2 linked regions of the Homo sapiens genome follow. The protein of the gene in region 1 purifies or fractionates together with the protein of each later gene. This does not show direct contact. Each region holds a gene or a part of one and is shown in the gene's direction. Other genes may lie near its edges.

The links. Proteins that work in one complex are often made in the same cells at the same time.
Region 2: the proteins of SH3BP5L (region 1) and PPP1R12A purify together in Homo sapiens (affinity purification with mass spectrometry; 2 studies listed by BioGRID and IntAct, with this or other methods). This does not show direct contact.

The regions. Positions count from the first base shown.
Region 1 is NC_000001.11:248,808,990-248,816,692, reverse strand, and holds the end of SH3BP5L (SH3 domain-binding protein 5-like), read left to right. Parts: intron 1-30; coding exon 31-159; intron 160-1,815; exon of another isoform or gene 1,816-1,964; coding exon of another isoform or gene 1,965-1,982; intron 1,983-2,082; coding exon 2,083-2,244; intron 2,245-3,447; exon of another isoform or gene 3,448-3,494; coding exon of another isoform or gene 3,495-3,530; coding exon 3,531-3,704; intron 3,705-4,322; coding exon 4,323-4,793; 3' UTR 4,794-6,247; downstream 6,248-7,703. UniProt on the Homo sapiens protein: Functions as a guanine nucleotide exchange factor (GEF) for RAB11A.
Region 2 is NC_000012.12:79,925,098-79,932,514, reverse strand, and holds part of PPP1R12A (protein phosphatase 1 regulatory subunit 12A), read left to right. Parts: intron 1-7,417. UniProt on the Homo sapiens protein: Key regulator of protein phosphatase 1C (PPP1C). Mediates binding to myosin. As part of the PPP1C complex, involved in dephosphorylation of PLK1. Capable of inhibiting HIF1AN-dependent suppression of HIF1A activity.

The DNA.
Region 1 (7,703 bases):
GTGCCTTTCCTCTGCCTTGTTCCTTTCCAGGAGGCCAGGACCACCTATCGGAGGATCCTACAGGAGTCGGCGAGGAAACTGAATACACAGGGTTCCCACTTGGGGAGCTGCATCGAGAAAGCCCGGCCCTACTATGAGGCTCGGCGGCTGGCTAAGGAGGTATGGCTGGCTGACCACGTTTGAGGAAGGCTACGTGCTGAGCCTGGCCCTGGATTCTTCTGTCTCTATATGGAGTGAGAGACAAAACACCAGACCCTGAGGGCAGAGCCCTGGGCTAGACCTGGCTGGTCGGAACCAGCTCTGTGGGCTCAGGAGGTTCCTTTACCACGTGGGCTCTGGGCTTATGGTCTATAAAATGGTGAGGGTGGCTGTGGGAGAATATTTAGTTCAGCCCTGCTAATGTTTAAGTGCCTTCTGTGTATCAGGAATCAGGCTTTAGGGTATATCAGATATGTCAGTTCTAACATCCTGTTGTTTTCATCTGCGCCCATTTCCTCTTCCCTTTGGTTCATGTCTCTCTTCTGAATCTTTTCTTTGCTTACTCCTCACTCTTTTCCCCATCCCACACCCCTTTTTTCTGTAACAAATTACTTTTAACAAATAATATGTGTTCACCATTGGAAAAACATAATAAAACAAGAAGGAAACAAAAATCACCCAAAATCCTACCATGCACGTTTCATGCATTTTGTTTCCTGGGATTTGTTGTCATCCTGTATGGTGAGGTGACAGATACAGACAACTGCCTTGGAAGAAGAGTTTGTTCCCGAGAGGAGGGGACATCCATGCCATGCAGGGCCACACGGGGAAGCAGCCAGGGTCCTTCAGGAGGCAGAAGTGAAGGAGAAAGCAAAGCGCAGCGCCTTAGTGTGGTTTTCGTGGAAAGGAGTAGGTGAGGCAGGGTAGGCAAGTTTGGATAAGTTTAGGAGTGGATAGTTGGAATAACTTTGCTAGGCCCTGGGCTATAGGGGCGGCCTCTAATTGTCTAGTACCTGGCCCTGGGATGACTTAGGGCAGAGGAAATATCGGCTTGGTCGGGGAGAAGTAGGTAAAGGAGTTAGCTGGGGATCCAGGCTTTGGATTAGGTGGTTGGTTTGCATATGAAAGGCACACTTACAGGGGAGTTTACTGTTTCTAGGAATTAGCCCTGGAAGGGGCAGTTTGTCCTTGGCCAGCAAGGTCCCCCAAGACATGAAAGCATCATAAAGTATAGAAAATAAAAATATGATTAATACAGCACAGATAACCATGTGTGCTGTATTAATCATATTTCGTGTCCTTGTATATCCAGCCAAAATGGGATTACACAGTATGTGCTATTTTGTTCTTTTATTAGCATTATGACATGGTTCCATGTCAATAACTATACATCCAAGCCGTCATTTTAAAGGACTGATTAATATTTTATTTTTTTAAGAAATGGGGTCTTGCTCTGTTGCCCAGACTGGAGTGCAATGGTGTGATCATAGCTCACTGTAACCTCAAACTCCTAGGCTCAAGTAATCCTCCTCCCTCAGCCTCACAAGTAGATGGGCTCACAGGCAGAAGCCACTGCGCCCAGCTTATTTTCTTATATTAGATGTACTATTATTTATTTAACCGATGTCCTATAACTGAAAAGTTAGGTTTGTTTTGTTTTTTGCTTGGTTGGTATGGCTATGATGACTGTCCCTGAGCACTTGTCTGATTACTTCCTTCAGCTTGCCTGCTGAACATGGAATTGATGGTCTCAAGGTCATCTTTTCTGTAAGACTCTGTCTATGTTGCTAACCACCTTACACTAAAATGGTTTGTGTTTTCCTTTGTTTTCCCTAGGGGAAAAGGCTAGCAGCCTTTGGGAGTGCTGGATTTCACACATCTACCCTCCACTGGCAAAATTTTTATTTCTTCTAGTCCATATCCTTATGAAATATTCTTTATAGAATGTTGCTTCCTTGGCATTTATCCTCAGCACAGTTTGGGAAATGAAGCCGACATTGCTAGTAGGCCTTCCTCCTTCTCTTATCCTCACGTCTATTATGGGTCTCCATGGGCAGCTGGGGTCCCTCAGGGTTCCCCATCCTGATATCCCTCTCCCCCCAGGCTCAGCAGGAGACACAGAAGGCAGCGCTGCGGTACGAGCGGGCCGTAAGCATGCACAACGCTGCTCGAGAAATGGTGTTTGTGGCTGAGCAGGGCGTCATGGCTGACAAGAACCGACTGGACCCCACGTGGCAGGAGATGCTGAACCATGCTACCTGCAAGGTGAGCCGGGCGGTGCCAGCAGGTCCCCTTCGCTGGTTCTCGTCCATCCTTTGCTATGTCTTTATCACCTCACCTCCTCATTCTTCCCTCTATTCTAGCCTTCTTTCAACTTTGATTCTGTTTCAGGCAAAACCTGTTCCTAGTTTTCTGTTCTGTTTGGCCTCCATTGCTTCCCATATTCCATTTCCCTCTGACTTAGAATGTCATCCCGGGCTCTTCTTGAACGTTTGCCTCCAGGTGTGGGACTAACCCAAACAATTCATCCCTGGTGGATACTGAGGATTCAACATTCACATTTTATTATGTTTAGCTGTGTGACTCCTCGCTTCTGTTTTCAGAGTCTGCTCCCTTTCCTGCTTTTGAGCTCTGACAGTACACCTCGAGTTTTGAAGTATAATTTATGTATCATTTCCAAGCTCCTGAAAGGGGACTGGGGAGCGGAAGGATCTCTGCCGTTGGCCCTGTCTGCCACCTTCAGCTTGCACAGGGCAGGTGTCAGCAACTCGAGGGGGTGTTTGTGGCTTGTGATTCTTCATCTGCCCCTCACACAGAACAGGCACCTCACTTCTACTCTAGAGCTCATGCAAATGAGAGCACACAGCACGGGGGGAGGGGTTAGGGGATGGTGTATAGTGTAGAGCTACACCTGAACAGGGAGCAGGTGAGGGCTCCAGCCGCTTTGTCTACCAGGACAAGTGGGCCAACTGTACAACACCCTGAGCAGAAGCACGCCAGAGCCCCATCCAACCTCGGCCCACTTGTCCTGGACGGTGCCCACATAGGGTGTGGAAACCTGGAGAACCCAGCGCACAGCTGTGGCTCCCCACACAGGCTCTTCTCACTCCCAGATCCCTAACCATTGGCGCTGAGGGCTCCCTGAAGAGAATGGCTGCTGCAGATGTGTGATGTGCTGACAGACATTCCCCTGATGCTCTCAAGTGGTTGAGTGGGCACCAGCATCCCTTTCCTGGCAGCAGCAAAGCTGAGTAGCCAGTGGTGCAGGTGACACTAGGCAAGAACATGGGGAAGACGTGGCTCAGAGGCATGTGCCTGTGATGTGGTCCTCGACGGTCAGGCAGCAGATCCAAGAGAGACAGAAATAAGCTGTCTTGAGGCTCATAGACCCCGTGTTCCCCTGCGTGTCTCGGGCTCTGTACACAGTTGGGGGTTTGCAGAGGATGTTCCTGTTTGGGTTCCCCCCAGGGCGTTGTTCAGATTGGCAGCCTGGGGCAGATGCCAGAGACTGAAGCATGGGTCCTGGCTCAGTGATGTGTCCTCTGGGCCAGGTGAATGAGGCGGAGGAAGAGCGGCTTCGAGGTGAGCGGGAGCACCAGCGAGTGACTCGGCTGTGCCAACAGGCTGAGGCTCGGGTCCAAGCCCTGCAGAAGACCCTCCGGAGGGCCATCGGCAAGAGCCGCCCCTACTTTGAGCTCAAGGCCCAGTTCAGCCAGATCCTGGAGGTAGCTGAGTGGGTGAGGGGGAGGAGGAATGGGTAGGTGGGGGTGCAGGCTGGAGGGGATGCTGGTCGGCCTCTCTGGGCCATCTTGGTGAGGTGGCCAGGGTGAGGCCTCCGGCTAGCGGTGGGGAAGGGTGGTGGCACACATGTTCCAAATGACCTTGCAGGAGTGAGAGGCAGGGATGGGGGCTGGTGATGGGGGCTGGTGACGGCGAGAACGTAGTTGGAAGAAGGGAGGTAAACAAGAGGAAAAGAACTGGTGGAAATCTGGGATGGGGAAGAAGAACCAGCCATTGGGTGAAAGGGAACAGTGGGGAGAGGATGAGGAAGCAGGAGCTGGTGGAGAGGAAGGCCTGAGAGGAAGGCTCTGGAAGGTGGGGCTCAGGTCAGGAGCAGGATTGCTGGGGAGGAACAACGCAGAGCAAGTGGAGCAGGGAAGGGTGTTGTGGGTCTGTGGTGGGTGCTGAGAGTGGAGCAGGGAAGGCTGTTGTGGGTCTGTGGTGGATGCTGAGCCAGCTGTCCAGGTATTCTGGGAGAGCAGGCCCTCAGACCTCAGTGCAGAGTGCTGAGGAAGGTGGAGACGTGCCCCATGGGTCGCCTTGCTCTGCTCTGCCCTCTGCAGGAGCACAAGGCCAAGGTGACAGAACTGGAGCAGCAGGTAGCTCAGGCCAAGACGCGCTACTCCGTGGCCCTTCGTAACCTGGAGCAGATCAGCGAGCAGATTCACGCACGGCGCCGCGGGGGTCTGCCTCCCCACCCCCTGGGCCCTCGGCGCTCCTCCCCCGTGGGGGCCGAGGCAGGACCCGAGGACATGGAGGACGGAGACAGCGGGATTGAGGGGGCCGAGGGTGCGGGGCTGGAGGAGGGCAGCAGCCTGGGGCCCGGCCCCGCCCCCGACACCGATACCCTGAGTCTGCTGAGCCTGCGCACGGTGGCTTCAGACCTGCAGAAGTGCGACTCCGTGGAGCACTTGCGAGGCCTCTCGGACCACGTCAGTCTGGACGGCCAAGAGCTGGGAACGCGGAGTGGAGGGCGCCGGGGCAGCGACGGCGGAGCCCGTGGGGGTCGGCACCAGCGCAGCGTCAGCCTGTAGCCGAGGGGCCAGGGTTCCTGGCTTGAATCTGCCACCACGGGCCGGTTGGGGCCCACAGTCTTCTCACGCCCTCTCCTCTGGGGCCTCGTCTTCCCGAAGGTCCCCTTCTCCAGTGCTTCCCTGGGAGAGGCCAGCTGTGTTCGAGTCCTCTGTGCCTGCCCTGGCGTTCTCACAGCCTCCCCCTTCCCCTCAGCAGGCGGCTCTCTTTGCCTTACCCATTCAGAAGGCTCGCCCTCGGCGCTCTGTCTGCCTCTGCCTGCCAGCTCATCACGATCTGCAGGGCATTGACCCTTTGCTTTCCCTTTCTGCTCCCTCTCTTTCCATCTGTTTGGCTTTTTCCCTCAGGGAACTTGGTCTAGAAGGCACTGGGAAGCTCATCAGAGAAAATGGGTGCTGGGCCTGAGTACTCCCGTCGGAGGGGATGGACAGTCACCCCTCCCGTTGGTTTCCAGCCCCGCCCCCCTTCCCAAGGCAACTCTGGAGGGTACCCTAGGTATGCTGCTGAGCCCTGCCCCCCGTCCTGCTCCAGCCTGCCCGTGTGTAACCTGTAAGATGTACTGTGTGCCTCCGGAAGACACCACCTTTCCCTTCAGCATTCCCTTTCATGACCTGAGGCACTCTGCGATGTGTGCCCCAAAGCAGAACTTACAGGGCCTGCAGGAAGCTGGTGTCAGGGAGAGAAACCCAACCCCACTGTCAACATAGGGAGCATCACCAACTCCAGACTGGCTCCTGTGGGTATGGTGTTTCCGCTGGGCTGGGTCCTCAACATTGCCAAGGTGCTAGTGGGTCCCTAAGAGGGCCCATGTTGGGGGTGAAGTCATGAGGTCCTGAAGGCTTAGGCCCCTGTCATTCCCACCCTCACTCTTGCTGCACAGTTGTGTTTACTTTTTCTGGGTAGAGGATGCTGAACTGACTCAGCACCCTCCTGCAGGACGGGGTTAGGGAATTTGGTGCTCAATTGCTCTCCCTTGCTCTTCCCCAAACTGAAAATACCTACTGCAGGATCCCTCGGGGCACACTGAAGCTTGGCTGCCAACCCTCTTACTTCCTTTGTTACAGGGAGGGGTTGGCTTGGGGTGAAAAGTTCTGCCCTCCGCAGGGAGCAGCTCCAGCTGCCTGGCAGTGCTCCCAGTTTGTAGGGAAGCCACACCAGATCTGGGTGCCTTGGGAGAACCAGTCCTTCCTTTTGACCCACCCCAGGAAGATGGAGTGCTCTTTTCTAGGCCCATGTTCTGCCAGCAACCGGGATGCGTGGGCAACTGGACTCTGCACGGGGGTCTACAGGTTGAGGGAGGTTGGTCACAATGAGAACCTCGGGGTTTGAGGTGGCCATGGGCAGACAGCCGAAAGGGAGGGAGGGTGTGGGTGTGCGTGTGTGCATGTGCTGGTGTGTAAGGGGGAAAGGGTCTTTCCTGGTTTTATTTAAATAAAGTAGTTTATGTAACAGTTAACATCTACTGTCCTTGCTGGAGGAAGAGAAAAGGGGCAAAGATGAGGCAAGGGTTGGGCAAGGGAAGAGCAGGGTTAGGCGGCAGGCTTTTTAGATGGTGTGGTCAGGGAAGGGAGGTGAAGGACCAGATTGAGTGAGCTGCGCTATGCATGCTCTTGCGGGGGTGGAAGGCCCCATGGCCAGGGTGGTCATGTACAGGGCAAGTGTAGAGAAGCAGGGGAGGAGTTGGTGCCTCATGGGGCCATGCTGTGTGAGGTGATGGGTGCCAGGAGAGGGTTTGGTAGAAAGGGGCCTGCGGGGTGGAGTGGGCTCTGTCTGAGCTAAGAGATGAGAGTGCCAGAGGGTTGGGATCTTAGATGTGTCTGGATGTGAGCATGAATGTAGAGAAGGGACACAAGTAGTGATGCCAGATTTATCAATACAGTGAACCCACTGAAATTTCAGATAGGCAGTATTTTTGTCTGCTGCAGTGTTTAGGATGTACTTACATTATGAATTATCCGTTGTTTCTCTGAAATTAAAACCTAGATAAAAGGTGACTTCCAAGTCAGGGCTTGACTGGCTGGGGGATGGGAGGGGTTTGAGGGCACTTGAACTCACAGGTGGGAGATTGGATAGGGATGTGAACTCCAGGAGCTTTGAAGAAGAGCAAAAGGCTTTGTTTAGCCTGAGCTGCACTTGGAGTGTACCAGTATTTGGAGTTTTGTTGAGAAGAGGTCAGCCAAGGGAAGAAGAAGGTGCTGGCAGGGAGGAAGACCAGAAACCTTGGGGTCAAGGGGCAGGGTGAAGGCCAAGAATTGGAGGCACGCAATCAGAGCAGTGACCCTGGTGGCTGTGGACGCCATCTGAGGGGCCATCTGGGGCCGCTATGTGCTGAGCACTCACTGTGCCTTTGGATGGGTGCTGTCCAGGAGTTTGAGATTGCCTTCCCTGACTTGGCAGATGGGTGTCATAATATTTTATTACTAGAAAAGCTGCTATGAAAATGCATAGCATATGTTTTTGGGTGAGTGGGCTTTTTAAATTTTTTAAATTGTATGTATAGGAGGTGAACAACATGGTATTTTGATGCACATAATGAAATAGGTATCAAATTGGCCTATCATTTTGCAGTTACCTCCCCCCTTTTTTGTTGTGAAACCGCCTAAAATCTACTCTCAGCAAATTTTCAGTCTATAATACAGTATTATAGTCCTAATGAAGGGCTTTCTGAGATGACACACAGTGCTGGACTTCCCTACCCAGTCACTGGCAGGCAGGACCTGTGAGGCTCCTGGTACAGAAGAGCCCTAGAAAAGAAGGGCTATGCCATGCACGTGCGTTTCTCCTTGCAAAATCACCTAGAAGATGCGGCAGGCGGGAAGAGAGACCAGGAAGGTTAGAGCCAATGGTACTTCTAAGGAGAAGAAGACAGAAGCCGAAGAGCTCCCTCCCTCCCACCCTCGTTGTAGTAACTT
Region 2 (7,417 bases), on another chromosome or scaffold:
CCCTTTTCCATAACATTTTTCCATATCTGCAAATGCCTTAAATCGGTGAAGCCAAAGTCTTTAAAATATCAAGCATTAAAAATTTGTGTTATGTTTTCTTCACTCTCATTTCTTATTTATCAACTCTTGTACTTTTTTCCCATTGTTACTATGAAAACAGGGAGTTCACTTTGGGCAAATTTAGGACAACAGTTAGTGAAAGACAATAAATAAAATTAAAAACCACACACACACAAGAAAATTTTAAGCCTTTAAGAAATCTCTTGAACTTAGCTTGTTTTCCATACTTAATTGTAAAAACTAAAATCACTGATTTAATAGTCCTTGAATAGTTCTTTAAAACTTTAACCTCTCAAAAGATCGTAGAATACCTAAAATGTATAACGGGGTTAATTGTTGATTGTTTTTTGAATATTCATTTACTTTCTGGTTTTGATCAAGTGTTCTAAATTTCATTGTCAAGAGAAAAGTTTTAGGAACATCACAACCCACAAATATGCTTTTGAAAATCGAATATTTTGCTTTTACTTTAAAGAGCTTATATTTAAAGGTTTATTAATTTGTTGAATGTGCTACCTCATTAGAAGTTATAAAAGATATCCAGTCTTCAGCTGTTCTTTTTGTATAGAAATGTGTCCTCTGTATAGAAGAAAAAGCAGCGTTTCTTGTCAAATTTCCTATCTTAGTCTCCAGAGTAGCCTTTCTCCCCCACCCACTCTACCCAGGACCTGACCCCCAAAGCTACAAAACAGCACAAAGTTAACCATAGATACAAATTTCTGGTTTTTCTAGAACCGAGGTCTAGAGTAGAATTTCATTATTACCAATGGGGCAATAATCAGCTTCTGATTTTATAGCTACCTGGTAGAGTTTTACAGTATGTGATTATATCTCTATTTTAGCATATTTTGTAAAGATTTAAGGAGATTAATAAAGTTATATATAGAATGCCTTATTGCTGATTCTTACTGATACTGGTGTGCATAAAATACAGGGCTGAGATTTTTCTCCAGCAGTTTTGAGTTTAGCCTGTTGATTTTAGCCTTAAAATCTTTTCTTTTTCCTCTGTGCCAGTGACTTCCAAGTCAGTTTACAGTTCCCTCATTTCTGCAAAGCTCCAAGCCTCATTTCCATTTTTTGGGGTTATGTATTGATTTGAAATGAAATATTAAATGTATTGTAATTTTATATTTAATAATGTCTTTTAAGTAGTAATATAGTAAATACAAGTTCACCCCCTTTGCCATAGAATGGCAACTACTGTATTCACGTTAACCTTTGTGATTTCTTCAAAGGATTTCTTATTGTTCAAATATAGATTTTCATAGTTGCAATTCAGTATTATAATTTTACGTTTATCCGTTAACATTAGAGATACTTATCTTTAGACTTTACCAGCATCCTTTTTAACTAATTATTTTAAAAGTATTATTAATTTGGTGGTAAGACAATTTTACATCGTCAGGAATTTCTTTAAATTCAACCTAAAACAGGTCTATCTTTCTTCATCAAGTCTACTCTTCTCATTGATGTTCCTGTTTCTGTTAATGATGTATTAATCTTTAGAATCAAGTTAAACATTTTAGTTATTGTTTACTCATTCCCCTTGTCTATGCATAATCCAGTCTGTCTTCTAGCTCAGTCTTTTCTTTACAATTACCTTGGCATCAGTTCTTTTCTTTGCCACTTTTTACTGGCAACCTAGTTCATACCTTTATTATTTTATTTTATTTTATTTTTTTGAGATGGAGTTTTGCTCTTGTTGCCCAGGCTGGAGTGCAATGGCGCTATCTTGGCTCACTGAAACCTCCACCTCCCGGATTCGAGCGATTCTCCTGGCTCAGCTTCCCAAGTAGCTGGGATTACAGACGTGTGCCACCATGCCCAGCTAATTTTGTATTTTTAGTAGAGATGCGGTTTCTCTATGTTGATCAGACTGGTCTCGAACTCCTGACCTCAGGTGATCCACCTGCCTCGGCCTCCCAAAGTGCTGGGATTACAGGCGTGAGCCACCGCACCTAGCCTTATTTTTATCCCTAGAGTATAGTAATAGCTTAATTGTTTTTCCTGCCTCTATTCTCTCCCTTATTTAATCTAGCATGCATATTGCTGTCATATTAATCTTTGAACAGTATCATTTTGATGGTGTTATTCCTCTCTCTAAATTTGGATATAGTACATTTTATCATTTAGCTTATGGTTGATACATCTCCATTGTGTTGTATCCTTTATAGAAATTGGTTAACTTGCTTACGTTTCAACTAGATCTTTACATTTTTTATTTCCATGCCTTTAGCCATGCCTTTTATCCTCTCTCCCTCGTTTGCCAATTAAAATTCTAGTCATTGTTCAAGATTCACATTCTCTTTTCTGGGGTGTTCACTGTACCTTATATTCTGCCTCTCCTGCAATAAAAACACTTTTTACTGAATAGTGTTTGTGTTTGTCTTCCCTTGTAGCCTCTGAGGACCTAATCTTCCACAATTTTTGTATTTCCAGAGCCTAGCACATAGTAGATGCTCACTAAAGGTTTATTGAATTTTTATCTTTTTACCTCATCAATAGGAAGTTTTAGAGTTATTTTTATGTTGTGAGATATATTTTTGAAACCTTCGCATCAGATACTTAGCGTATTGTTCTTGCACATAATGGAATTTGTGTGATTATGAAACAAATTAAAAACTTTGTTGTAGATTTCAATATATTTTAATATCTTGAGATTTTAAAAAAATCTTTTTTTTTTTTTGAGATGGAGTCTCATTCTGTCACCCAGGCTGGAGTGCAGTGGTGTAATCTTGGCTTACTGCAAACTCCGCCGCCCAGGTTCAAGTGATTCTCCTGCCACAGCCTCCCAAGTAGCTGGGATTACGGGTGCGTGGCACCATGCCTGGCTAATTTTTTTTGTATTTTTGGTAGAGATGGGGTTTCACCATGTTGGCCAGGCTCATTTCGAACTCCTGACCTCAAGTGATCCGCCCGTCTTGGCCTCCCAAAGTGCTAGGATTACAGGTGTGAGCCACTGTGGCCGGCCTAAAAAATTCTTAATATCGACCTCCTTTCTATTAAATTTTAAAGCAGTCTAGATATTGGTTAAGTGGTAGAAAAATATTATATCCAGTTGAGTCACTAATTAATTACTCACTTTGTAAGAGTCTGAGCTAGATCCTCTAGAGCGGGGGTTCACAAACGCTGGGCCGTGGACAGGTCGATCCACGACCTGTGAGGAACAAGGCCACACAGCAGGAGGTGAGCGACACACTGGCAAGCTAGCATTACTGCCTGAAATCCACCTCTTGTCAGATCAGCAGCGGCATTAGATTCCCATAGGAGTGCGGACCCTATTGTGAACTGCGCTTCTGAGGTATCTAGGTTGTGTGCTCTTTATGAGCATCTAATTCCTGATGATGATGTGAGGTAGAACAGTTTCATCCGGCCCCACTCCCCAACCCACATCTGTGGAAAAATTGTCATTCACAAAACTAGTTCCTGATGCCAAGGTTGGGTACCACTTCTAGAGGAATACAAAGTAGAATTAGTTCCATGTTCTATGCTATTAGAATTTTAAAATAGTTTTTCTTTTACTTTCCAAAACAGACAGACTTACAGATAGGTTTAATATGAAATCCTTTTGCTTTTAAAATACAAATTTGATCTACTTCTAAGGGAGCCATTTTAAGCATCTTTGTAAAATATGTGATCCTCTCGTCAGTAAAGGGAATACTTTTGTGTAGTCTTCTTAAGATGTGAAGTGTAAAAGAGACTGGAAGCAATTAATTTTGAGTTGCTTGTTAGCAAATAGTTTGATTACTATGTAAAATCTGAATTAAGAGTTTATAGTTTGTAACTGTTTACCCTTTTTTTGATGGAGAATGTTAAGATCTTGGAAGAACCTACTGGATAACTTTTAAAGAGCATTAAAATTTGTGTCTAAAAGAATGTGCAGTGTAAAATATTTCTCTGCATAGTTTTCTTTTTAGAAAAGCTGTAACACTTTATGCTCATGCCTTTCAAAAGTTTTTATTGAAATCATCCTAAATCCATTTTTAAAAACCTACCTAAACAAACAAATAAAACCCTCCCAACCCCAAACTGGCCCCTCACTTCCTACAAATAAGTGGGCAACCCTAGCCATATATGGGGTGTGCTGGTAGGGCACCAGTGCCCACACTGCTGCTGTTCTAATGCTTTTTCTGTAGTTGCTGCCTCTGTGCTTCCTGGCAACACTTTTGTGGTCTGACTTTGAGGTGTCATAACCAAGACCATCTTTCATGTGCCTCAGCTACAGTATGATTGCAAGCTGTGACTGAGCATTTTCTATAGCCAGGTAGAAACACTGGATGGAATAGAGGAAGTGTTTTTCATCATCCATTTGTTATTACCACATTTAAAAATTACAGTTCACATAAGAAAAGTGTTTTAAAAATCTTATTAGATGATTTTTAAAAGAAAACTATTTAAAAACCTTTTAATAGGGGGAGGCATAAAACGTTGTTTTGTTACTACCATAACATGTTACTTCTTGACACTATATGAAGTTGCTATTTTCATTGCCTCTGCCTGCAAAAAATTGCCATCTTTTACTCCACCCTTCTTTTGAAAGTTTGTGGGGCTCCACAATAAGGTTGAGAAGATGATGAGGTATTGGCATTTTGGTATACCTCTTTGAAAGGTTGAAGAACTCCAACAATTATAAGTTTATTCTCAGTTGGAGTCAGATATGTAGTAGCCATGACTTAATCAGTGTTTTATTGAGGAGCAGTGCTTTTCCAAACAATAGTTTAATTTTCACAACATGCTTTTTCACTTGCTCAAAGTTAACAAGAAAATAAATGGCAGAGCTGGAATTCTTATGCAGGTCTGTTTGATGCCGAAACTCAAACTTTACCCTATGCCAGGTATCTTCTTTGAAGTCTGAAGAAGAAAATATTCTTAAATCTTTTCATCATTATGGTGGTGTTTAGTAATTGGAGGTTTCTCTGTAAATTAGCTGAAAATCAAGTGAAACACACATATAATTTTTTTCTTCATCCACATTTGTTTTAGCTAGCCCATACTTTTAAGACCTTTCTATGGTAATTGAAGTGCAGTAGTACTGTATCTAAATTAATCTCAGAATTCGAAATTGTCCTAAATTTTAGGAAGTGCCAAGATTATTTTTGACTTACCATTATGTGCAGAATATATCAGCAGCAACAAGAAACACTCCTTTTTTCAGGACATAGAATTTAATTTTTAACTACCTTTATTTTTCTTTACCCTAATAGCAATTTATATCGTTTCAGTTGTTGGGTGTGTGTGTGGGTGTGGTGTGTGTATGTGTGTTTTGAGACAGGGTGACAGACTCTGTCACCATGGCTGGAGTGCAGTGGCATGAACATAGTTCACTGTAGCCTTCCTGGGCTCAAGTGATCCTCCCACCTCAGCCTCCCGATCAGCTGGGAATACAGGCATGTGCCACCACTTCCAGCTAATTTTTTTTTTTCTTTGACAGAGTCTCCCCGTGTTGCCCAAGCTAGTCTCAAACTTCTGGGCCCAAGTGATCCTCCCACCTCAGCCTCCCAAAGTGCTGGGATTACAGGCGTGAGCCACTGCACTTAGCCTGTTTTAGTTTTTTTTAATCATTTACAGTAAATTTTTTATACATACGTACATGTACATATTTGATTCTTTTTAGAGACAAATTGTAGGAAACTTCATACCATGGATACTGGGGGTGGGGGGGAAGAAGTCCCTTATATACCCTTAAGGTAGGGACTTTGATTCTTTTTTTCTTTAAATCTCCTTTTGTATCGGCATTTTGTTTTAGTAGGTACACAATAAATATTTAATGATTAAAAAAAATTGGACACAATGTAAACTAATATTTTGAAGAGCAGAATTCATAGAATATTAAATAATTGGGTAAGTGTAACACACTGACAAACTTTTAAAATGTCCTAATAAAAAAGCTTATATCAACCACTTACTTTTATAATACTTACAATGTAAAGGTAGCCATTATTACAATCAAAACATTTATTAGGTGGCTGGGTATGGTGGCTCACGCCTGTAGTCCTAGCACTTTGGGAGGCCTAGGCAGGCGGATCACCTGAGCTCAGGAATTTGAGATCAACCTGGCCAACATGGCAAAACCCCATCTCTACTAAAAATACAAAATAAAAATTAGCCAGGCATGGTGGCGCATGCCTGTAATCCCAGCTACTCAGGAGGCTGAGGCACGAGAATCGCCTGAACCCAAGAGGCAGAGGTTGGAGTGAACTGAGATCATGCCTCTTCACTCCAGCCTGGGCGACAGAGCGAGATTCTGTCTTAAAGAAAAAAATTATTGGGATGTTAGATTTATTTTTGAAATGAGATCTATTACTGATTATCAATAGACGCTTCAGTTTATGTAACTTAGTTTAAAAATTCTTTAAACAAATCCTTGAGTGTTCATTTAGAAAAGTAATCTCTAGGCTGGATGCAGTGGCTCACACCTGTAATCCCAGCACTTTGAGAAGCCAAGGCAAGAGACTTGATCCCAGAAGTTCAAGACCAGCCTGGGCAATATAGGGAGACGGTGTCTCTACCAATAAAGAGAAAAGAAAAGAAAGAAAAAGAAAAGAAATCTCTAGCATGGTAATATTAGAAATAATGCATATTTTCTGTTATTTTACTGATACTTTTTTTTTCCAAATAACATTTTTACTATGGCTCCCTCTATGTCAGTATTTTCTGACCTTATTAGTGTTTTGGTTGTTTATCTTTGCATTGTTATGCTGGCTAACCATAAAAAGACACGCTTGAGTTCTGTGTTACTGCCCTAAGTGTGCTTGCTGCTCAACTCAAATGCTCTTTCATGGGAGGAGACATTCCACATTGTCATGTGTTGTATAGGCATTTCTGAAATGACATTCAGTAGAAACCATGGAAAGAAGTGAAAGCATTCCTCAGCTGTCACTTTTTTAGTAGTCTATTTAAATGTTATGTATATTAAGTGAGATATTCTGCAGAGAGAGCTTCACTTAATAAAAAGCTTTACTTTAACTTGATGATTTAACTCACATTTGAGCTGAAATTACTATTTTCTTAGTTTAACATGACCTCTAACAATAAAATCATAAGATTGTACAAAGCTCATGTCATTTTCTTGAATACTGCATAGTGCAGAGGAGAATACATTTTGTGAGATGTCACTTGGCACCCTCTTAAAGATTAATAACCATGTGGGAAAGTATATTTTCATGGACTGTTACACACACACACACACACACGTACACGTATGCACTCAACCTTTACTTGTAATAAACATCCCAAATTATATATATTTTATTAGCCTTCAAAATTGTTTTAGATGGTTATAAACTTATTTGAATATTTATATTCTTGCATGGAACACTTCTAGAGCTTTTCTGTTGGAGTTTCAGCTCCAGAACAT